2 separate regions of the Homo sapiens genome follow, and region 1 is linked to region 2. The links come from fine-mapping of genetic effects on gene expression. A gene starts in region 2. The other region holds a variant in brackets. All regions are shown on one strand. Distances are from middle to middle.

Region 1 (9,374 bases), 44 kb after region 2:
CTGTTGTCATTGGTGGACCTGGGATGCTGGGTCCCAGGTCCGAGAGGTGTGGATACCAAACGTGGGGCTTGGGGTGGAGGGGAGAGGGAGAAGGCCATGTTGGACCCCAGAGGTTGGTATTCGATCTGGGCATTGCTGGAACATTCTTCCCTCCAGATGATTTTTGTGGGGTAGCCTGGGACTGGGGAACCTGTTGCCAGCCACAACTGGCTTCAAGTTACTGAGCTGTTCCACTTTCCCTGGGATGAACCCAGGAAAGTTGGCGTGTTCTTTGATGGCTCAGCCTTCATCTCTTAAGCCTTCTGATAATTTCTCTCTGCTCCCCCCAACCCTAGTCACCCTTTGGGTGTACCCAGACACAGCCCAAGCTTCTGGTCCCAATGTGTCTGAATTGGAAGGGACCCAGAAGATCCTGTCCCTCTCACTGCACAGACAGGGAAACAGGCCCAGAGATAGCAAGAGACTCTTCCAAGGTCACACAACACACTCATTGCAGGCAGAGCTGGCACTACAGCCCAGATAGTATTTGCTTGGGTTTCTTTCTCTGGCCCCCTACGGCCACCAGTAAAAACAGCCACCCACGCTCTCTGAAGGCCCTGATGCATTCAGAGTGCTTTCACTTCCATTATTTCACTGTGCGTTAGGTAGGCCAAGCAGTCTCCCCATTTTACAGTTGAGGTCACTGAGTTGCAGGGTCAGCTAGGGGCTTGCACTCCATCACACAGCAGACCAGAAGTGGGGCCTCTTAACCTTCCACTCTGTTGTGTGGTCAGGAGGACTTCCCACCCTGGGCCCTTGCTGGGGTCTCCCCACAGCCTCTGCCAGGCCTCTGCCTCCTCCTGCCAGTCTTGAGGGATGGGGTGGATGGAGCATCAGCCAGCACTCTAGGGAGTTGGCCAGTGCTAGGGGGCTGCCTCTCTGCCTGTAGAGCCAGCTTCAGGGAGGCTGTAGAGCACTTCAGGGAGGCACTTGAGGGGATGATTCTCGAAGTGTGTATCACCATCTCTACTCCCATGGCCTCCTTTCCTTGGTGTTCCTGCTGAGTAATTCTCACTTGACAAGTTTTTTTGTCCCCCTTTTAGATACATACACTTACATTTTTTTATTATGAAAAATTCCACTACATACAAACATGGACAGAAGAATGTAACAGACTTCCATCCCCAGCTTCCACAGTTGTCAATATGGGTCCAATCTTGTTTCTGCATCCTCACTTCGCTTCTTCTGTCTGCAACTATATTAGTAATATAGTAATTACTAAGTACATTCTAGATATTATTTTATCTCTGCACCTCTAAAAATGACTTTTTAAAATGAATGCATTACCATTAGCAAACCTGAAAAGAATTTCCTAAATATCACCAAGCTTCTCTGATTGCTTCATAAATGTGTGTGTGTGTGTGTTTTCCAATCCTCACACTTTTTGCTCCATTCTGAGGGGCTCCATACGCGGGGTCCCTGTTGAAGGAGGCAGTGGCTCTTCACTGTTTCTTTTGGTGCTTTTTCTTGGATCAGGCTTCATAGACCCCACGCTGCCATGGAGGGGACAGAGGACACACAACCCCAATTCAGTCCCACTAGCCCCAGGTTACCTCCATACCTTCTCAGCTTGGGCTCCTGAGATCTGGGAAATCAGTGGCCATTTCCTCTCAAAACAGGCTTTTGGGCTTATAGCACAGCTTCCTTTCCGTCTTCCTGCTTTTGTGGGCTGGCCTATCCCTCCGTGGGTTCCAGTGACCCACCAGTCACACCACATCACCCATGACCTTCTTCCTTTTTGAAAGGTTCTCCCACCTCAGGCCCACCTACAGCCTACAGCCCCACGGCTTTTTGCCTTGAGCTGACTCACGCCGTCCCGGATTCTTCCTCTCCCACCCACCCTGGATCTATCCCTCGGTATTGACCAGCGCCAGTGGCATGCTCTTCCCAACGGGCAGAAATGGGGCAGGGCACAGGGGGTGATTCCTGGGTCTGGAGATTGATCAAGGCAGCTCAGATGGGGCTGAGAGAGGGGAACTGAGAACAAAACGGTGGATTATCCCAGTAGGAGACTTTGGTGTCTACGTTTGTGTCTGGAGATTTGGGGCAGCCTGATAATGCCCCACACAGGCTTGTGCGAGGGTTTCTGTGTGGCAGTGTGTGTGTGTTGCGAATGTGTTGGCGAGTATATAATAGTTGATGGTAGACATTCTCAGTAGAGGAAGAGAGAGGCCTGTGTCTCTGTGGGTGTGTGGGTGTGTATTAATTGCTGGCAATCCCCACTTTCTGGGTGTGATTGGTTGATTATTATAATTAAGATAACTTTGGGTAGCTGTGTTGTGTTAAGCTCAATCTGCATTTGGATTTGTGCATGTGAAGACAGAGGTTGGTAAAACAACAATTTCAGTCCCACACTATCCTTGCTATCCTCACAGTCATTACAATTTTTTTTTGTCTCCACTTTCCCAACTCCAAGAACTTTAATTTTTTTATTTGTAATATTTTTCATGGGCCAGGAAGTGGACTTGAACCTCCCACATAGATAACTTTAGTCGATAACTTTCTACATCTTTTTTTTTTTTTGAGATGGAGTCTCACTCTGTCCCCCAGGCTGGAGTGCAGTGGCTCAATCTTGGCTCACTGCAACCTGCACCTCCCAGGTTCAAGTGATTCTCCTGCCTCAGCCTCCCAAGTAGCTGGGATTACAGGCAGAAGCCACCAAGCCCAGCTAATTTATGTATTTTTAGTAGAGACGGGGTTTCGCCATGTTGGCCAGGCTGGTCCCAAACACCTGACTTCAAGTGATCCCCCGCCTCGGCCTCTCAAAGTGCTGGGATTACAGGTGTGAGCCACCGCACCTGGCCCAACTTTTCAGATCTTAAAAAATTTTTTTTAATTTATTTTTTATGGAGACAGAATATTACTGTGTTGCCCAGGCGGTCTCAAATCCCTGATCTCAAGCAATCTCCCGCCTCAGCCTCCCAAAGTGCTGGGATTACAGGCATGAGCCATTGTGCCCAGCTAAAAACATTTTTTTTAGGCTTAAGCATGCTTAACTGGTTTCATTTGTCTTGGGGCAAGTGAAAACAACTTTAATTAAAAATTTTTTTTAAATGAGACATGGTCTTGCTCTGTCACCCACGCTGGAGTGCAGTGGTGCGATTATGGCTCACTGCAGCCTCAACCTGCTGGGCTCAAGCAATCCTCCCATCCCAGCCTCCTGAGAAACTGGGACTATAGGCGCACATCACCATGTCCGGCTAATTGTTTCTATTTTTTGTAGAGATGGGGTCTCACTATGTTGCCCAGGCTGCAGCTTTGCTTTTTGTCTGGCTGTTTGCCAGTGGCTGTCTGAGTCTATTAAGTGGATCTGAGGTTGGTAAGACGAGGAGTTCCCTTGATGCCCAAGCACATTTTGTACTTTGGTAGGTACGACACATTGCCAGAATACCCTCCCAAAAGGTGCTACCAATTTACGCCCACACCAATAGTCTATGAGAGGACCCATTTTCTCACAGCCTCATCAGCAGTAGATATTATCACATTTTTTTTTTTTTTGAGACAAAGTCTCGTTCTGTTGCCCAGGCTGAAGTGCAGTGGCATGATCTCTGCTCACCGCAACCTCCGCCTCCCAGGTTCAAGCGATTCTCCCACCTCAGCCTCCCAAGTAGCTGGGATTACCGGCATGCACCACCACGCCTGGCTAATTTTTGTATTTTTAATAGAGATGGGGTTTCACCATGTTACCCAGGCTGGTCTCAAACTCCTGACCTCAGGTGATCCACCTGCCTCGGCCTCCCAAAGTGCTGGGATTACAGGCGTGAGCCACCACGCCGGGCCAATATTATCAATTTTTAAACATTGACCAATATGACTGAGAAGAACTATCTATCTCCTTGCTATTTTAATTTGCACTTAATTACAGTGAAGCAGAGCCTGTGCCAGGAGCTCCGAATCTGGGAGAGGTATGACGACCCTGTGAACCATCCCAAGGCTACTTAGTTCTTAGGGCCAGCAGAGGAATTTGGGGTCTTGGACCCTGTCTTATGAGGGTGGGATGGTAAGTGGCCTTTAGGGACGCTCAATTTGACACCAGACCCATCACCACTCTCGGTTCCTTCCCAGCAAAGTGTCATGTAAATCAGGGGCTATTTTGGGATTCCAGCTGGTGGTGATTCTAGACTTTTAGGGAGAAACCGAGATCTCCTTTCTCTTCTCCCTTTTCCCCAGCCTCTTCCTGTGTCTCCATTTCCCTCTACTAGTGATAAAAACAGGATGAGCTGGGCATGGTGGTGAGCACCTATAACCCCGCTCGGGTGACTCGGGAGGCCAAGGCAGGAGGATTGCCTGTGCCCAGGCATTTGAGCAGAGCCTGTGCAGCATAGCAGACTCCATCTCTTAAAAAAAAATCAGTATGGCCTGGCGCGGTGGCTCACCCCTGTAATCCCAGCACTTTGGGAGGTCGAGGCCAGTGGATCACCTGAGGTCAGGAGTTCGAGACCAGCTTGATTAACATGGTGAAACCCCGTCTCTACTAAAAGTACAAAAATTAGCCAGGTGTGGTGGCGGGCGCCTGTAGTCCCAGCTACTCGGGAGGCTGAGGCAGGAGAATAATGGCGTGAACCTTGGAGGCGGAGCTTGCAGTGAGCCAAGATCACACCACTGCACTACAGCCTGGGCAACAGAGCGAGACTCCGTCTCAAAAAAAAAAAAAAAATTAGCCAGGCGCAGTGTTGGGTGCCTGTAGTCAAGGAGAATCTCTTGAACCTGGGAGGCAGAGGTTGCAGTGAGCCGAGATCACACCACTGCACTCCAGCCTGGGGGACAGAGCGAGACTCTGTCTAAAAAAAAAGAAAGAAAAAAATGAATATGAAGAAATGGGGACCACAGAGCACAGCATGCACTCTGCAGTCAGAAGACCTCACCTCTGCTCTCCCACCGAGGACCGTCACCAAACCTCTCGGAGC[G/A]TCAGTTTCTTCAAATATAAAATTGGAAATAACATTTTATTTTTTATTTTTTCTTTGAGATGGAGTCTCACACTGTTGCCCAGGCTGGAGTGCAGTGGCGCCATCTCGGGTCACCGCAACCTTCGCCTCCCAGGTTCAAGCGATTCTCCTTGCCTCAGCCTCCAAAGTAGCTGGGACTACAGGTGCATGCCACCACACCAGGCTAATTTTCTGTATTTTTAGTAAATATGGGGTTTCACTATGTTGGCCAGGCTGGTCTCGAACTCCTGAGCTCAGGAAATCCACCCTCCTCGGCCTCACAAAGTGCTGGGATTACGAGTGTGAGCCACTGTGCTGGGCCATCTTTCGAACTTTTTAACAGCTTTCAGAGGAAAGATGGACAGGAGTTAGACTCTCCATTTACATGTGAAGAAACTGAGATTTGGGCTGGGTGCAGTGGCCCATGTCTATAATCCCAGCACTTTGGAAACCTGAGGCGGGTAGACCACTTGAGGTCAGGAGTTCGAGACCAGCTTGGCCAACGTGAAACTCCATCTCTACTAAAAATACAAAAATTAGCCGGGTATGGTGGCACATGCCTGTAGTCCCAGCTCTTGGGAGGCTGAGGCAGGAGAATCACTTGAACCTGGAAGGTGGAGGTTAGAGTGAGCTGAGATCACGCCACTGCACTCCAGCCTGCATGACAGAGCGAAACTCCATTTCAAAAAGAAACTGAGATTTGGCTTGAGAATTAACTTATCCAGGGTCATAGGGTAGTAATCTATTTTTCTCAACTCAGGAAAGTCAGGGGAAGACAGGCGTGTGACAGCACCCTTCTAGGACACCTTCCCAAGGTTGTTAGGTAAGTTGTCCTGGGGACCTCTGGGGATTAGAAGTCCCTCAAAAACAGTTCCTAGGCCCCTGGAACCCTCCCTCCTCCAGGTTTCCTGACTCAGATAGGTCCCTTTTTCCTCATCCTTCAGGGCTTCTCATGAGAGGAGGGGGAAGTGTGTGGAAATGAAAAATAATTCTGATGAGGATTAGCTTCTGCCATTCTGAAAACTCTGCTCTTCCTGCTTGTGTTAGAAGAGAAAGGCTAAGCCATTGGAGCTGGTGATGGAATTGGTGCTGGTGGAGGTGGTGGTTGTAGTGACGGTACTACTGGTGGTGGTTGTGATGGTGAAGGTGGTGGCTGTAGATGGTGGTGCCCGTGCTGGTGCTGGTGGAGATCGTGGTTATCGTGATGGTGGAGGGGGCAGTTGTAGTGACGGTGGTTGTGATGGTGGTGATGGGTGGTTACAGTGCTACTGGTGGTGATGGTGCTGGTTGTAGTGGTGGTGGTGACGGGGCTAGTGAAGGTGTTAGTGGTGGAGATGGTGATGGTAGAAGAGTGCTTCTTTTCTGAATCTGTTACTCTGGCACAACAGCGGAATCATACAGCATCCCACCCCCTAACTTCCTCTACTTTTCCTGGAAACAAGGACTTTGAACATGAGCCCCGTGTTCAATAGAGCCTTCTTTCAGGTGGATGGGAAGCTCCCTGTTCAACTAGGATGTGTGCAACTTCTCTAAAGGCTGAGGGCAGACTATACCGCAGGTGGCAGACCCAGGAGCATGGGAGAGGGAGGGCCTGTGAGTGGGTGTCATGGGTCTGGGAGTGTGTTAGCACTGTGAGAGCCACGGCAGAGAGGGTGGCTGAGGAACTGAGGCGTGAGGACCTTCCAGGAACTGCCTGTGGAGAGCTGGTGGTGCCCCCTCCTAGGAAGCAGCTAAGGTTAGAGACAGGGGTGTGCAGGTAGATGTCGAGCAACTGACCCTCTGAAAGAACATTTTAAAAAACTCTGATTTGTAGTGTTTGCTGATCCCTGTGGTGTAAATACTCCTGCTATGGATGATTTCAAGCGACTCATGTGAGTCATTGAACACAGAGCCGGGAAGAGACTCACAGTGCACTGTGATTTAGTACCTCCTCCATGCAGCTGCGATAGACGGAAGTAACCTCGACAGTGCAGACAATAGTAAAACGTAAAATAACTGGGCAGTGATGATTTTTTAGTTTTTACTCCTTTTTTTTTTTTTTGAGATGGAGACTTGCTCTTGTCATCCAGGCTGGAGGGCAGTGGCGCGATCTCAGCTCACTGTAACCTCTGCCTCCTGGGTTCAAGCCATTCTCCTGCCTCAGCCTCCTGAGTAGCTAGGATTACAGGCGCCCACGACCACACCCAGCTATTTTTGTTGTTGTTGTTGTACTTTTTAGTAGAGACGGGGTTTCGCCATGTTGGCCAGGCTGGTCTCGAACTCCTGACCTCAGGTGATCCGCCCGCCTTGGCCTCTCAAAGTGCTGGGATTACAGGCATGAGCCACTGTGCCGGGCCTACTTTGACTGTTAATATGTCTTGAATTGCAAGTTTATATAATTTAATTTTTAATTATGGCTGTGTTTAACCACTGGCTGGCAAACTCCCTAAACACCTTCCAGCTGGTTCTTGTGAGTGGGAGGAAGCCGGCTACAGCACACCACTGATGCCTGGGCACTGTTGCAGGGGGGACTGGCTGTCAAGCTGGAGCTGATGGGTGCTGGGGGCTTTCTCTCTTCTCTCCAGGCGGATGTTCCCATTCCTGTCATTTACTGTGGCCGGGCTGGAGCCCACCAGCCACTACAGGATGTTTGTGGACGTGGTCTTGGTGGACCAGCACCACTGGCGGTACCAGAGCGGCAAGTGGGTGCAGTGTGGAAAGGCCGAGGGCAGCATGCCAGGTGCGCGCGCCCCTGGGAGCGGTGGGCTCTGTTTCGCTGGGACTGGGCGCCCCCTGGTGGGCCCACCAAGCCCCTACCCCTAATTCCTAGACCTTTAACCCCCTCCCACTCCATCCCACGCCATTGCATCCCTCCTGTTTCTGGCTTCCTGCTTTGCTCTAGCCTGTCCTCTGCTGAGTCCTCTGCCCTTCCCTGCCTGGTCCTCCCCCTGTGTCCTTCCTTACGTCCCTCTCGGGACAGGCAAAGCCCTACATCACCAGGGTTCTGTCCCGGGGGCTGCATGTCAAAGAGGTGAACTGTCCACAGGAAACCGCCTGTACGTCCACCCGGACTCCCCCAACACAGGAGCGCACTGGATGCGCCAGGAAGTTTCATTTGGGAAACTAAAGCTCACAAACAACAAGGGGGCGTCCAACAATGTGACCCAGGTAGGACCTGCTCTTCAAAAGGTAGCCTCGCCCTGCTCCCCACCCTGGGTCTGAGACCTCCAAGGCCACAAGGGTCCTGCGGGGCCAGTTTGGTTCATTTTTTCTTCCTTCCTACAGGAAGGAAGGTTCGTTTTTCTTCTGTCCTAAACGAAGGGTCATTTTTCCTCCTTCCTAAACTCTGGCTGTTTCTCACCCACCTTGGGAGGAAGATGAGATGGGATGAAGCTGAATCTTGGACGGGGGTCATATTCAGGCCACACAGGCCAACCCAGCCTCAGGGTTTCTTCACCAAATCATGGGTTGCCATTGCTCCGGCACCATGAAAGGCACAGAGTTGGCCCTGTGGTCCCAGGGAATAGATGCCGAGTTTCTCTAGGTTGAACAATCCTGTTAAAAGTGCCCTTGCTGGCTGGGTGTGGTGGCTCACACCCATAATCCCAGCACTTTGGGAGGCCAAGGCGGGTGGATCACAAGGTCAGGAGTTCAAGACCAGCCTGGCCAAGATGATGAAACCCCGTCTCTACTAAAAATACAAAAATTAGCCAAGCATGGTGGCGGGTGCCTGTAATCCCAGCTACTCAAGAGGCGGAGGCAGGAGAATCGCTTGAACCCGGGAGGCAGAGGTTACAGTGAGCTGAGATCATGCCATTGCACTCCAGCCTGGGTGACAGAGTGAGACTCCGTCTCAAAAAAAAAAAAAAAAGAAAAAAGAAAAAAGAAAAAAAAGTGCCCTTGCCCTAAAGCCCTGTTTGTGCTGATACCTTGGTCTCAATTGACATCTGGAGGTAGAAGAGGGGGCAAGAGGCTAGAATTGGTGCCCCAAAGAGTCCGGACACTGGAGTTGGAAAGCTTGGGGGAAGTTACATGGTGGCAGAGCAGGGGAATGGACAGGATGACCTCAAGGTGCTTGCTAGCCTCACGTGGGGCCAGCTGTTGGTGGGGGTGATGGGATCCTCGAAATCCTTCCTCCCCACCCCTACAACCGTCTTGCTCTGTCTACAGATGATTGTGCTCCAGTCCCTCCATAAGTACCAGCCCCGGCTGCATATCGTTGAGGTGAACGACGGAGAGCCAGAGGCAGCCTGCAACGCTTCCAACACGCATATCTTTACTTTCCAAGAAACCCAGTTCATTGCCGTGACTGCCTACCAGAATGCCGAGGTGAGGGCTGCCTGAGCCCCGGTGGGGAGGAGGGCAGAGTGGGGCCCACTGTCTTCCTTGGGAGGGATTTGGAAAGTTCCCGAGCCCCAGACTCAGGACTCA
Region 2 (14,360 bases):
TGAGATCGCGCCACTGCACTCCAGCCCGGGCAACAAAGCAAGACTCTGTCTCACAAAACAAAAACAAAAACAAAAACAAAAAACAGGCTGGGCGCAGTGGCTCACGCCTGTAATCCCATCACTTTGGGAGGCCGAGGCAGGCGGATCACCTGAGGTCAGGAGTTCAAGACCAGCCTGACCAACATGGTGAAACCCCGTCTCAACTAAAAATACAAAATTAGCTGGGCGTGATGGCACATGCCTACAATCCCAGCTACTCAGGAGGCCAAGGCAGGAGAATCACTTGAACCTGGGAGGTGGAGGTTGCGGTGAGCTGAGATCGCGCCATTGTACTCCAGCCTGGACGACAAGAGCGAAACTCCATCTCAAAAACAAAAACAAAAAAACACATTAGCCAGGTGTGGTGGGAGGATGAGGCAGGAGGATCACTTGGGCCCAGGCGATCAAGTCTGCAGTGAGATGTGATTGCGCTACTGCACTTACCAAACAACTGTTTACGTGCCAGGAGACACTGGGGATATAGCAGTGAATAAGCAAACAAAATCTTCCTGTGGAGCTCACATTCTGATGGATAAATAATCAATATTCAATAATTCAATATAACTTTTTTTTTTTTTTTTTTGAGACGGAGTCTTGCTCTGTCACCCAGGCTGGAGTGCAGTGGCGCGATCTCGGCTCACTGCAAGCTCCGCCTCCCGGGTTCACGCCATTCTCCTGCCTCAGCCTCCTGAGTAGCTGGGACTACAGGCGCCCGCCACCACGCCCGGGTAATTTTTTGTATTTTTAGTAGAGACGGGGTTTCACCGTGTTAGCCAGGATGGTTTCGATCTCCTGACCTTGTGATCCACCCGCTTCGGCCTCCCAAAGTGCTGGGATTACAGGCGTAAGCCACCGCGCCTGACCTCAATATAACCTTTTAAAAATTCTGTTTGGGAGATAGCAGAAATGAACATGGCTGTGGAGAAAAATGAAGCACATATGGAATTATAAAAAACAAAAAACATCTGGGCGTGGTGGCTCATGCCTGTAATCCCAGCACTTTGGGAGGCTGAGGTGGGGGATCACCTGAGGTTGGGAGTTTGAGACCAGCCTGACCAACATGGAGAAACCCCATCTCTACTAAAAATACAAAATTAGCCAGGCATGGTGGCACATGCCTGTAATCCCAGCTACTCGGGAGACTGAGGCAGGAGAATTGCTTGAACCCGGGAGGTGGAGGCTGCGGTGAGCCGCGATGGTGCCATTGCACTCCAGCCAGGGCAACAAGAGTGAAACTCCGTCTCAAAAAAAAAAAAAAAAAAAACCACTCTATTCCTTCCCAAACCCTACTAATTCAATTAGGGGCTCTGCATTACCTCCACAGGAATTTGGGGACGTGGTGAAGGAATGTCTTTCTACCACTGCCCTACCCTCCCATCTGATGGAACACCTGCAGCTGCAGTTGGAGTCCCAGGATGCTTGCATGGTGAATGGCCCACTTTCTAGGGTCTGGAACTGGAGGGCGAAGGTGGCACCTAGATCCTGCAGTCACATGGGGCTAATCAATTTTCCTGCCCGCCAGGGTTCCATTTGAGTCATCTGGGTTTTATTTTGATTCAGCCTCTTTAACTGGCTGCTAATGTCACCTCCTCCTACTCTTTTCAGGCAATAATGGGACAGGAAAGACAGCCTCCAGAGCAAGAGTCATGGGAGTGGGAGAGTCTCCCTGGTGGTTTCCAAGGAGGAAACACTGGCAGGGCCTGGCTCTGGGGGCCTGCATTTGCACTGTCTCTCCTACCTTAACGATTGGAGGTGGGTCCTCTGTTATCACACCTGTGAAGGCCATTTAGAAATGTTTTACAACTCATGCCTGACCACTGTCCACCACTTTCCCCACTGTCCTCCCACTGTGGCTCCTATCCCCTTCACCATCTCCCCTATTATTGTCTCCACCATGATGAGCCCTGCCAATACCAGGGGCTCTTAAAAGGGATTCAGACCAGCTGGGCATGGTGTCTCACGCCTGTAATCCCAGCACTTTGGAATGCCGAGGCAGGCGGATCACGAGGTCAGGAGATCGAGACCCCATCTCTACTAAAAATACAAAAAATTAGCTGGGCGTGGTGGCGGGCGCCTGTAGTTCCAGCTACTCAGGAGGCTGAGGCAGGAGAATGGCATGAACCTGGGAGGCGGAGCTTGCAGTGAGCGGAGACCACGCCACTGCACTCCAGCCTGGGTGACAGAGCGAGACTCCGTCTCATAAAAAAATAAAAATAAAAATAAAAAGGGTATTCAGACCAATGTTCAGCTTTCTCAGATGAGGAAACAGGCCTAGAAAAGTGAAGTAGTCTTAAGTCACACTGCCTCATTTATTTATTCATTCAACAAAGAACATACTTTCTTACTCTTTTAAGATTTAGCTTAGCCAGGTGCGGTGGCTCATGCCTGTAATCACAGCACTTTGGGAGGCCGAGGCAGGTGGATGGCTTGAACCCAGGATTTTGAGAGCAGCCTGGGCTACATGGTGAAACCTTGTCTCTACAAAAAATACAAAAATTAGCCGGGCGTGTGGCATACGCCTGTAGTCCCAGCTGAGGCGCAAGCCACCACGCCTGGAGACTGAGGTGGGAGGATCACCTTAGCCCAGGAGGGCGAAGCTGCAGTGAGCCAAAATTGCACCACTGCACTCCAGCCTGGGCGCCAGAGAAAGACCCTGTCTTTTAAAAAAAAAAAATTGTAAGAGCTCATCAAGGAGACCTTCTCTGAATACTGTGAAGCAGATCCCATCCTCCCATTCTTCTCTAGTACTGCCCCTTGGTGTTTCTTTTTATCCTTTATCACAATTTCCTTCCTTCCTTCTTTCCTTCTTTCTTTTTTTTGAGACGGAGTTTCGCTCTTGTCACCCAGGCTGGAGTGCAATGGGGTCACCTCGGTTCACTGCAACCTCTACCTCCTGGGTTCAAGCAATTCTTCTGCCTCAGCCTCCCGAGTAGCTGGGATTACAGGGACCCACCGTCATGCCTGGCTAATTTTTGCATGTTTAGTAGAGACGGGTTTCACCATGTTGGTCAGGCTGGTCTCAAAGTCCTGACCTCAGGTGATCTGCCTGCCTCAGCCCCACAAAGTGCTGGGATTACAGGCATGAGCCACTGTGCCTGGTCCTTTATCACAATTTCTAGTGGTTTTACTTATTCATCTTTTTATTTTTCTGACTTCTCTACCATACTGCAAGCTCTAAGAGAGCAAGAGACATGTATACCTGTCAGAGACATGTTCAGCACTGTATTCTCAGCACCCAGCACATAATAGATGTTCAAGAAATCTTTGCCGAATAAATATACAACGAGCAGGTACCAACCCTCAGGGCACCTTAGAATACAAGGATGGATGGGATATAATCTCTGCTCTCAGAACTGCCTGGTATGAGCAGCAGAACTAGAAATGGAGAATGCAATGAGATCAGGTCCAGATTGGGGGAGGGGGAGGATTTTAGGGCACCTAAACCAGGCCTAATGGACTTTTGCCACCAACCACCTAGAACCAAGGATAGAAGCATTTGGCTGCACCCTGCCAGGTGACTCAATTAGGCCCTGAGCATCCAAGCAGCAGCAGGGGGCTGATGACTCATCCCAGACAGTGTGTGCTTAGAGGGTCCTGGGACCCCTTTTTCCAGTGAGGGAGGGCTTGCCAGTTGGTCTTATGGGTCCTGTTTGTGGCCAAGTCCAAGGTCACCGAGGGTCCCAGAGACAACCCTACACCTCCTAGTCTAGCCTCCAATCTTTTGCCTGGTCCCTTGCTTCAGAAGAGATCTTGGGGAGTACTAGGGAAAGGAACATCTGCCTAGCCCTTGGGATTAGTGGGGTGACAGATGTCCCCACTGGTTTGCCTTCATATCTAGAGGGTAGATAGGTCATCCCACATGGTTCAGAGAAAGCTAGTGCCTCAGAGAACAAGTGGCTGACCTGCCTTCCTGTTCTGGACTACAAACGGGAGCCAGTGCTGGCAGGAAAGACTGAAAGGGAACCCAGCAGGAGGAGGAGGAAGGAAGCCACTGAGAATCCCCCCTTCTATGAAGAGAATGAGTCTAGAGCTCTGGCTGGCTCTCCTGGTAGAAGCTCACCTCTCAGTCCAATTTTCTCCCAGCAGTGAGGAAAGATGGCAGCTGCTGCTTTTCAAAGCTCAGAGAGAGCAAGAAACCTTTTCCTTCCATCCTCCCCCTCGGAGATTCCCACCCCCATCCCACCTCAGGAGCCAAAAAGGTAGGCTCAGGTTCCCAGCAGTCTTCGCAGCTAAGGCTGAATCTGCCAAAAGCCCCCGCCCAGCTTATCCCCTGCTTCCGGGCTTTGCCTCCCTGTCCACAGAGGATGCTCTTCAGCCAGAGTGCTCCAGGGTTCCCCTGATCATTCTCTACCTGCAGCTAGGCTGACCATGCCTCTGTCCACATTATTTAATCCACCAGGCAATACTCAAAATGACATCGTTAACACTTCCTGAGCATTCGCAGGCTGCTGTATTTAGTTCTGATCCCCATTCTTCCTCCATGAGAGTGCTTAGGTGGGGCATGATCTCCAGCTTAGAAAGGTTAAGGTAACTTGCCCAAGGTCACACAGCAGGAAAGTAGCAAAAAACTTGTTTCTCTTGCCCAGCAGTTTGGCAGGTGCTCAAATAATCTTTGTGCACAGGGTGACATCTGTTGTTTCTTCATTTCCCTGACCTGTGGGTACTTGAGGGTGGCCGGGGAGTGGTGTGTGGGGAGGGAGATGGCTGTCCTTCTTCATGAATGAATCTTTGACCTCCTTAGTTTACTCTCACTTCCAAAGAAGTTACAGCTTTAATCTCTCTGTACCCTATGTTCAATGTATTTATCGCAGCAATGCCCCTTTTACCAAGAGCAACGAAGAGCAGGTCTAATGATTTCCTTCTCAAAAGCGCAAAGACCAAAAAAAAAAAAAAAAAGCCAGATAAATAGCCCCACTTCCTCCCCAAATATACAGCCCATAACTAAACAACCAAAACAACCAAAGCATCAGCCGGGCCCCTGCACTGACCGCAGACGCCCCCAACACACGCCACCACGCCACACTGCGCCGGGAGGCGTCGGGGAGGGGGCGCCAGCGCGGGCCGCTGGCGCCGCAGGGAGCCGGTGGGCTCCGGGCGCGCTGCCAGGAAGGGCCGCACCGTAGGGGCCGCCGCCTCTCGCCACGTGGTGGTGGCAGCGGCGGGGTCCGGGGCGCCTTCCCAGCTGGAGAAACCCGGAGCAGCCGGGGAGGAGGAGGCGGAGGAGGCGGCGGCGGCGGAGGAGGAGCGGGGCGGACGGGAGGGAGGGGGTTGGGGGGAGGGGTGGGGGGTGGGGAGAGACCCGGCGGCGGCGACAGGGCGAGGAGCAGAGCGCGGTACCAGGGGGGTGGGGGCACTGGTGCCCGTTTGGGGAGGGAGCAGGCGGAGGGGGTAAGCTGCGATTACAAGCAGGAACCGGCAGCAGCTGTGAGTCCCCGGCTGGGGCTAGGGCTGGGGGAGGGGAGCGGCGCCCGGGCTGGGCCCCAGGGGTCGCGGGGTGGGCAGGAGGAGGCGGCAGGAGGGCGGCTGGCAGCCGCACGGGATGGCTGGGAGGGAAGGGGTCCGGTGTCGGCCGCCCTCATCCCCTCGCGTCCCCCTCCGCCGCCGTTCCTCAGGCCGCGCCACTCCCGGAGCCCCTTCCCCGGCCCCGAGAGGGTGTCCGGGGGCCCAGGGCTCGGCCGGTTGTGGGGGAGGGGGCTGCGTGGTCTCGGCCCCCGAGAGGGGAGGGGCGACAATTTCTGTCGGCCGAGCGAAAGGGGTTTAAAGGGCGGCTCTTAAAGGGGCCGCAGGAGGGGCCCGGGCCGACAGAGGCACTCACCCCTTCCCCAGCCGCCTTCCATTGCGCTCACCCGGGCGCTGGGCCCAGAGAGGAATGCGGAGGAAGGAGGCATTTGTGGTGCGGCCTCGGGGACAGAGCCCCGCCAGCGGGGTGGGCGCAGAGGGGCGGGCGGGGGTCTGGGGGGGTGTGGTAAGCGCTGGCGCGCGGAGCTGGGGGGAGGGGATGGCGTGGGAAGGAGAGGGTTAAAGGTGGGGCCGGCCCTACAAACGCGCGCACACACTCCTTACTCAGACCCAGTCACTCGCGTTTCCCTGGCACTTAGATGGGCCTGTGGGTGGCGGAGGGGGGGGGGTGGATTGAATTGGAGCCTGCGCCGGAGCCCTTTGCACCCCAAGCTCCTGCAGCCCGACCTGGGGGCCCCGCTGTCTGAACTCACAGCTCCCTGCCGAGCCCCCTCTCCGGGGTGCACATAACGCTCCAGCGCGCGCACACACCTCGGACAGTCCCCTCGCGTCTCACGTGACACGCGGCCCGGACGTGCCACCCTGCCCACGCGCTCACGCACGCGTGCACACACCAGCCTCCTGGTCGCTGCCCCACTCCGTCCCGACGCCCCTGCGACCCCGAAGGCACTCATTGACTGACACACCTACACTCATTCACAGACGCACACTCCCCCCATACGCCAACCCCAGACACACATTCATAACCAGGCCCGAGAGAAGTACACACGCACCCCCTCACTGCCTACTCCTGCTTTCGGGAGCCTGAGTCATTCCTGCCCCCTCGTAGGGTTCCCCATTTCCCGGTGCGCGGGCACCCTGAGACAGCCTTGGGAATTCGTTCGCGTCCCCTTCCACCTGGGTCCCCTTCCCCAGTTTGCGCCCCGTAACACTCAGCCAAGGACTTCCTGTGGGTCCCAGGTCAGGGGCCAAGGGGTCCTGGACCGCTGCCACAGCCCCGGTGCGCCCGGGGGAGGCGCTTCCTTTTCCTGAACTCTGGGATCCTGCGGGAGGAAGTGGGGAAGTTGGGCGGGGGTGCAGCCGAGGGCGTGCCGACTGTGGAGGGGCCGACCCTCGCGCAGCTCTGGGCCTTCCTTGGGGAGGAGCTGGGGTGCCAGAGGCCCAGGCTGAGGAGCTTGGCGGCGAGGTATTTGGGGAAGTAAGGCCTGGGGTGGAGAAGCGCGGAGGAATGGGCCGGGCCCGGCTGGGAAGGCAGCCCTCTCCCATCCACAGGTCTCCCTGGGTTCTGGCAGGAGCCTGCCCCTGCTGCCGGCCTGGCTTACTTGTCCCTACTTGTCAACACCCTGGCAGCGGGGTCTTCACCTGGTTCCAGCCCCTTTTCCCCAAGGCGGCAGAGAGGATGGGGCTGAGGAGTCTGGGAAGGGGCCATGGGAGTCCCTGCTGAGCTCGGGGCAGGAAGTTTCTGGGTTGCATCTTAGCCGGCCCCAGGGAGTGCAGAGCCAGGGAGAGGGGTACCAGGGACAAACCCTAGACAGACGGCCCTGTCCACGGTTGCTCCTGCTCTCCTAGGAGGCCCCGTGTGGGCCGCGGCCCGGCCCTCACCATGGAGTCCATGTTCGAGGACGACATCAGCATCCTGACGCAGGAGGCCCTGGGGCCTAGTGAGGTGTGGCTGGACAGTCCCGGAGACCCCTCGCTTGGGGGCGACATGTGCTCCGCCTCCCACTTTGCCCTCATCACTGCTTACGGAGACATCAAGGAACGGCTGGGGGGCCTGGAGAGGGAGAACGCCACCCTCCGACGCCGCCTCAAAGTCTACGAGATCAAGGTCAGAACTTGGAGAGGAGGGCGCCTGATAGAGTGTATGGGATGGGGAGGGGGACTGGGAATCTGGTAGATACCAGGGATCCAAAAGAGGGGTCACTGTGCAGACTCTTGGGAACTTGAGGGTCTCCCATGAGAGACGTGGCTGTTCCGGATGCGAACTGTCTCCTGTTGGCTTCAGAAGGGCTGGATCTGGGATCTAAAACAGATCCGGTGGGTGGGAGATGGCTACAGACCCATGGGAATTGGGATCCCACTAGCCAAGGAGAAGGAGGGTCAAAGGTCTGAGGCAGGTTGTGGGTTGGGGGCACAGCCAGGCTGAGGCCTGGGCTGGGCACCCGGGAATCCACTCTCCTGAAGCTCCACCCCACCTGCAGTACCCACTGATCAGTGACTTTGGAGAGGAGCATGGCTTTTCTCTGTATGAAATCAAGGATGGCTCCCTGCTGGAGGTGGAGAAGGTCAGCCTGCAGCAACGGCTCAACCAGTTCCAGCATGAGGTGAGCCTACCAGGCTGGGCGCACCCCCTGAGCATCTTGCTCCAGTCTGTTTCTGATACCCTTCCCTCCACACCCCCCAGCATCTGGCCTCTGCCCTTTGATTAGAGATGGCCAGGTCCTCCCTAAGCCCAGCTGCAGCTCCTCCTGCCCCTCCATAGGGTGCTGGGAGTGGGGGTGGGGAGGTGCAGGGAGCTCTCCAACTCCAAGTCCAGTGTGGGACTGACCCTGTGGTGGGGCCCTCTGGGCCTCATCCAGTTACAGAAGAACAAGGAGCAGGAAGAACAGCTTGGAGAGATGATCCAGGCCTACGAGAAACTCTGCGTGGAGAAGAGTGACTTGGAGACAGAGCTGAGGGAGATGGTGAGGCCTGGGGAGCCGGAGGTGCTTGAGGATGTGTAGCTGGTTGTGTGTGTGCATGTGTGCATTTAGTTCTGTGTGTGAGGATTCCAGCCTGTGACAGTGCAGTCCCATGTGTCACACATCACTTGTTTGTGCCCTGCTTGTGTTCATGTGTATCTGTGAGTGCCCGCCCATTTGCCCTTGTGAGGGAGACTGCATGTGTTATCCATGTTGCGGTGTCTGTGTGCATCCTGGCCATGCAGTGGCCCCGTGGGAACCTCTGTCTCTGTGTGTATGCCTGGCTGTCACGCTGGGGTGACCCTGTGCCTGTGAGCACTGCCCTGGCTCTCACGCTGGGGTGACCCTGTGCCTGTGAGCACTGCCCTTGGGAGGCTGTGAGGGTGAGGGCAGAGGTGACCAGGAGTGTGTGACTGCTAGGATGGGCCTGTGCTTGGGTGTGCTTCCGAGTCAGGGTATGGCTGTGCCGGTGAGCAGGTCAAAATCAAGAGACAGGCCAGGTATGGTGGCTCACGCCTATAATCTCAGCACTTTGGGAGGTTAAGGAGTTTGAGACCAGCCTGGGCAACATAGTGAAACCCCATCTCTACAAAAAATACAAAAAAGAAGTTAGCCAGGTGTGGTGGTGCACACCTGTGGTCCCAGCTACTCAGGAGGCTGAGGTGGGAGGATCGCTTTAGCCCAGGAGATCGAAGCTTTGGTGAGCCAAGATCAAGCCACTGCACTCCAGCCTGGGTGACATAGCCAGACCCTGTCTCCAAAAAAAAAAAAAAAAAAAAAAAAAATCAGGAGACATGGTCTCAGCCAACCCTAAGCTATGACCTCAGTTAAGTCACTTAGCCTCCATCCCTCCTCTGAAAAGTGGGGCAAATATTAACACCCTCACCAGGTTGTGGTGAGGGTGATGGGGCATTCATGTATAGATGCTTTGCCTTCATAATCATAGATATTTATGTGGCACTCGGGGTGTGCCAGGCACTGTTCTTTTCACCTGGCATACACTAGCTCATTTTAATTCTCAAAACAACCCTAAGAGGTGAGTGTGGGACTGTTATCCCCATTTTATGGATCAGGTGGGTGAAGTCCAGAAGCTCTTGTCATGTATGCAAATGGAAGTTCTGATGCTCCTGAGGGGGGCTGGCCTCCAAACAGGGGGCTGAGTGTTCTTTTAAGTGTCCCTGTGTGTTAATGACAGAGCAGGGGCATTAACTTGACCTCGCCAGGGGCAACAGCCCGCAACAGCTGCATTGCGGTGGCTGAGAGGAGACTTTGCACTCACAGCCACTTGGAGAGTGGGCTTGGGATGTGTGACCTGGGGCCTCTGCTGTAGTCTGGGGTGATGACTCTCCAGACATGGGGAAGTCCTGGGCCTGTGCAGACCCTCCCCTCTGTCTCTCTCTCCAGAGGGCCCTGGTGGAGACGCACCTGCGTCAGATCTGTGGTTTGGAGCAGCAGCTGCGGCAACAGCAAGGCCTCCAGGATGCAGCCTTCTCCAACCTGAGCCCACCGCCAGCCCCCGCCCCTCCCTGCACTGATTTAGACCTGCACTACCTGGCACTGAGAGGGGGATCTGGCTTGAGTCATGGTGAGATCTCAGTGACCCCGACTTACCTCCTAGTCCCCAACCCCCATTTCAACATTCCTAGACACCTCGCACTTACTTACCATCCCATTTGTAATATAATCTATTTCTCCATAATCATCCCATCCTCCCTTACCTGCTGTCCCCTCACCTCACCCACTGTTACCCTAATTTCTCCCCTTCTAACTCGGTCATTCCTGATCACCTCGTTGCAATTCCTGTGCCTGCCAGCAGAGGGCGCCCCCACCCAGAGTCCCCCCGCCCCGTCTCTGGCTGTGACTAGGAGAGGCCCTTGCAGATGCTCTAGACTTGAGTCTGGCCAGTAAAGCCTTCAAGAGCCCATCTTATTTTTTTCCTGGCCTCCAGGAAAATTAGAAATGCGGCTCAGCCCATCTTTCCTCGCTGCCCTTGTCGCAGTCATCCCTCCTTGGCTAGCTGTCCTGGCTTCTCTCTTGGAGTCCCCATGCTGCATCCTCCTGTTTCACTCTGGCTCTGGGAGCTGGAGGAGGCAGCTGAGCTCGCCTGACGTTGTCCTGTCCACCGACAGCAGGCTGGCCGGGCTCCACACCCAGTGTGAGTGACCTGGAGCGGCGGCGGCTAGAAGAGGCTTTGGAGGCCGCGCAGGGAGAGGCCCGGGGGGCTCAGCTCCGGGAGGAGCAGCTCCAGGCCGAGTGCGAGCGGCTGCAGGGGGAGCTGAAGCAGCTGCAGGAGACCCGGGCCCAGGTAAATGCAGGGGCCTGGAACAGCTTCTGGAGGTCCAGGGCTGGGCCTTCCCCACTGTGTGCAGACTGGCCCAGGGAACTGTAGACAAGGGCCCTGGCAGGGGTGAGCTTGGGCTCTGACCTCTTCATCTTCTTCCTTAGGATCTGGCCTCCAACCAGTCGGAGCGAGACATGGCGTGGGTGAAAAGAGTTGGGGATGATCAGTAAGTCACATTGGTAACCCTGGTCCCTCCGTGATGTTTGGGAGACCTCCCCTCCCAGCCCTCAGGGGTGTGGTGTCTGGGCTGCTGTTGCTCTGTGTGCATCCTTCATAGGAAGGAGGTGGGGTTCTTTTTTTTTTTTTTTGAGATGGAGTTTCGCTCTTGTTGCCCAGGCTGGAGTGCAATGGCGTGATCTTGGCTCACCGCAACCTCTGCCTCTCGGGTTCAAGCAATTCTCCTGCCTCAGCCTCCCGAGTAGCTGGGATTACAGGCATGCACCACCATGCCTAGCTAATTTTTTTTTTTTTTTTGAGACGGAGTCTTGCTCTGTCACCCAGGCTTGAGTGCAGTGGCGCAATCTCGGCTCACTGCAAGCTCCGCGTCCTGGTTCACGCCATTCTCCTGCCTCAGCCTCCTGAGTAGCTAGGACTACAGGCGCTCGCCACTACGCCTGGCTAATTTTTTTTTGTATTTTTAGTAGAGATGGGGTTTCACTGCGTTAGCCAGGATGGTCTCGATCTCCTGACCTTGTGATCCGCCCGCCTCGGCCTCCCAAAGTGCTGGGATTATAGGAGTGAGCCACTGCGCCCGGACCTTTTTTTTTTTTTTTTTTTTTTTTTTTGGATTTTTAGTAGAGATGGGGTTTCTCCATGTTGGTCAGGCTGGTCTCGACTCCTGGGAGGTGGGGTTCTTGAGTGTTTGGGATCTGGGACATTCCCTTTGCTTTCCTCTGGGGCCCAAACCCATCTCTTCTGGAGATGCCAGGGCTAAGTGACACTTACTCGGCTGCTTTGTCGCTGTGTCCAGTGTAATGTCCCCTGCTGAGCTTTTGGGCCTCCGTAGGGCCCCATTTTCTATTCCAGTGACAAGGCCCGGCCAGTTGGGTTCACCCTCCCCTCCCTAGTGAGGAAGAGGGAGGTGGTGTTTCTTGGGATTTGTTGGGCCTTGTCTGCTGATCTCAGGAGAGAGAAGCCTGAGGCTTAGAGACAGGAGAGGTTTCCATGGGTTCACACAGCCGTGGGGTGGGGAGTTAGAATCTGCTCTGCTAGGGTACTCCCTTGAATCCTACCAAGAAAGGGGCAGCAGAGAGCGGCAAGGGAGCTGTGTTGGTGGGGGGCCCAGTGCTGGGGCCTCCAGGGGGGCACTGGACAGCAAGGGAGGGGTGAGCAGCCACCCGGCAACAGTGGAACCTGGTGCCTTTCACATCCGCACTGAACTCACCCTCTCCCACTTTCTGAGAAATAGAGCTCAAACCTCTTTCCGCCTAAGTCCTCTCCCCTAAGATGAGCTGTGTGGCACAGACTCCCTACTCTAATTGGAGGAGAAGACTGAGGCCCAGAGAGGGGCAGGAACTAACCCTCCACCGCATAGCATACCCAGCTCCGGGGCTCCGGAGGTCTCCTGCCCAGCAGGCTTCTTCCTTATCTGCCTCCCAGCTTCTGGCCAACTGGGGATACCCCTCGCCTACCTCCCTACCTAAGAGTGAGGGCTTGGGTGGAGCTGTGATAGCTGGGGAGGTGGTGAGAACCCAGTTTGTGGGACTGGTGGGTGGGACCCCTCAGCTAGGCCTTTGTGGAGAGGGTCCACCCTAGCTTGTGGCTGGAGCTTGGGGCCCATCATAGCCCATGTGCCCAGACCTGGAACACACAGACACACACAGACACACACACACACACACACACACTCTCTCTCTCTCTCTCTCACACTCTCCAATCCTAGCTTGCCCCAGAAGTCATGATGTAGGGCCCTTCATGGGTCACTGAACCCAGTCCCCTCTTACCAGACCAGCAGTGAATCTCCCTGAATTGGTAGAACTCCAAGGGAGGACATTTTGGTGGGGCTGGAGTCTGGCTCTTCAGGTTTTGAATCCCAGGGGCCTTTCTTTACTGACTTGGACTCTACCTCTCTGGATCCAGTTTCCCTCACAGGCTCAGGGGCCAGTCATTGCTGAGAGATGGGAGAGGAAGGTGAGGCGGTGGGTAGAAGCAGAGAAGGGGCAGGGCTCCCAGGGGCCAAGGTTGTATTGTGTGAGTGAAAGGAAGCCCACCCTATAAGGGGCTAGGAGGCCGTATCATCCACGCTGCCCATTCTGGCAAGAGCAGCCCCTTCCCTCTCTCTCTCAAGGCTCCTGCCCTTCTCAGGCCCTTTGGCTGGAGGGAGCTGGCCTCTGCTTGGGGGCTGGCCCCACAGGCTTACTGGAGGCCACCTCCTGGCTCCTCCCCTCCTTCCCTGTGATTAGGCTCTGCCTCCAGCCTCCCAGATCTCTGCATCTGGAGCCAGCCAGGCTCTGCTGCCCAGCCACACGCTTCCTTTCAGGCCGAGCGAGCATCTCTGGACAGCCCTAGTTTGGCGAGCGTTAATTCTCAGAGGAAGTCCTCACTACCCCGATAGTTTTATTTTCTTATAAACTCAGCTCCTTTTGGTAATAGGCTGCTTCCCGAGTGCTCCCTCCCCTGTCCTTCCACCCAAGGAAGCCTCAGTCACTTGCTTTCAGCTCCTCTTCCCCCACTAGTGCCCCTCTTTCTTCTGTTTCCACCTGACTTTCCAGGCTGGTGGGAATTTTACAAGTAGGCTTTTCCGGGAGTGGAGTGAGTGTCGAGGCTGGATGACCCAGGTTTGGGGTGTGATTGGGGTGAGGAGGACCAGGATATGAAGGCTGAAGAGGGGTACACCCAATTCCTGAGTCCAGCCCACTCTTAGGCGGGAGTCTTCTGTATGGTGAACTCTGTATGTATGTATGCCCACCTGTCTTGGTCTAGACACCTCCGGGGCAGCCAGTTTTATTGCGGGAGTCCTCAAGGTTAACCGCCCCCACCCCCATCTCTATTAATTCCCTTCTCTGGATCCTAGCCCCAGCCCCAGGGTTTCCCAGTTCCTTCCCTCCCAGCCCCTGGCCCACAAGTTCTGGCCATTAACGTTCCCACGAAAACAGACACCCAGACCAGACCGAGGCAGACTACTACCCTCCAGGTCTGACCCCCTGGGAAACCCATGGTTTGGTTTGCCCAGCTCCTGGGGACAGAGCCCAGGGAGACAAATTGCCCCAGAGGAAGAGCCACTGGGGGTCACGCAGAGGCCAAAGGCAGTGATGAGGGAGGCGGTGGGAGCAGAGCCCACCCTGCTCCTGAGGATGCACAGGGAGGTAAAGACCCTGACCCTTGGGGGGTTCCCAGCCCAGGTGGAAGGCGCAGCACCCACAACCCCCTTCTCTCTGGGCCCAGCTCCCCAGCCTGGGGTTCCAGAGTGGGGCCTTTTGGAGGGTATGGCCGTGCTGAGGGGGAGGGGAAATGCGGGGGGGGGAACTTCTTGAAGGGGATGAGGGCTCCGAAGGGACAGGGGGTCTGTGAGGGGAATAAGGGCCCGGTAAGGGAGGGTGGGCTCATCTGTGCGGGGTCCA

The links. PIP is the estimated chance that this variant, and not a neighbour inherited with it, causes the effect.
Region 1: its variant is the best candidate, but not a certain one, in a credible set for the expression of TBKBP1 in whole blood (INTERVAL, PIP 0.56).

What each region holds. Positions count from the first base shown.
Region 1 is chr17:47,735,082-47,744,455 of GRCh38, forward strand. It overlaps TBX21 (T-box transcription factor 21), which reads left to right. Exons shown (of 6, transcript NM_013351.2): 2 at 7,529-7,683; 3 at 7,990-8,111; 4 at 9,114-9,272. Among named protein-coding and RNA genes, the nearest start is that of TBX21, 6.5 kb to the left of the region's middle. The variant G/A (reference allele first, on the strand shown) is at 4,947.
Region 2 is chr17:47,688,732-47,703,091 of GRCh38, forward strand. TBKBP1 (TBK1 binding protein 1) reads left to right here and starts at 5,430. Exons shown (of 10, transcript NM_001394755.1): 1 at 5,430-5,463; 2 at 7,348-7,606; 3 at 7,980-8,102; 4 at 8,358-8,462; 5 at 9,864-10,044; 6 at 10,589-10,764; 7 at 10,905-10,966. The coding sequence starts at 7,382. RefSeq lists enhancers at 5,185-5,865, 5,866-6,545, 6,546-7,226 and silencers at 5,649-5,778, 6,029-6,088, 6,871-7,030.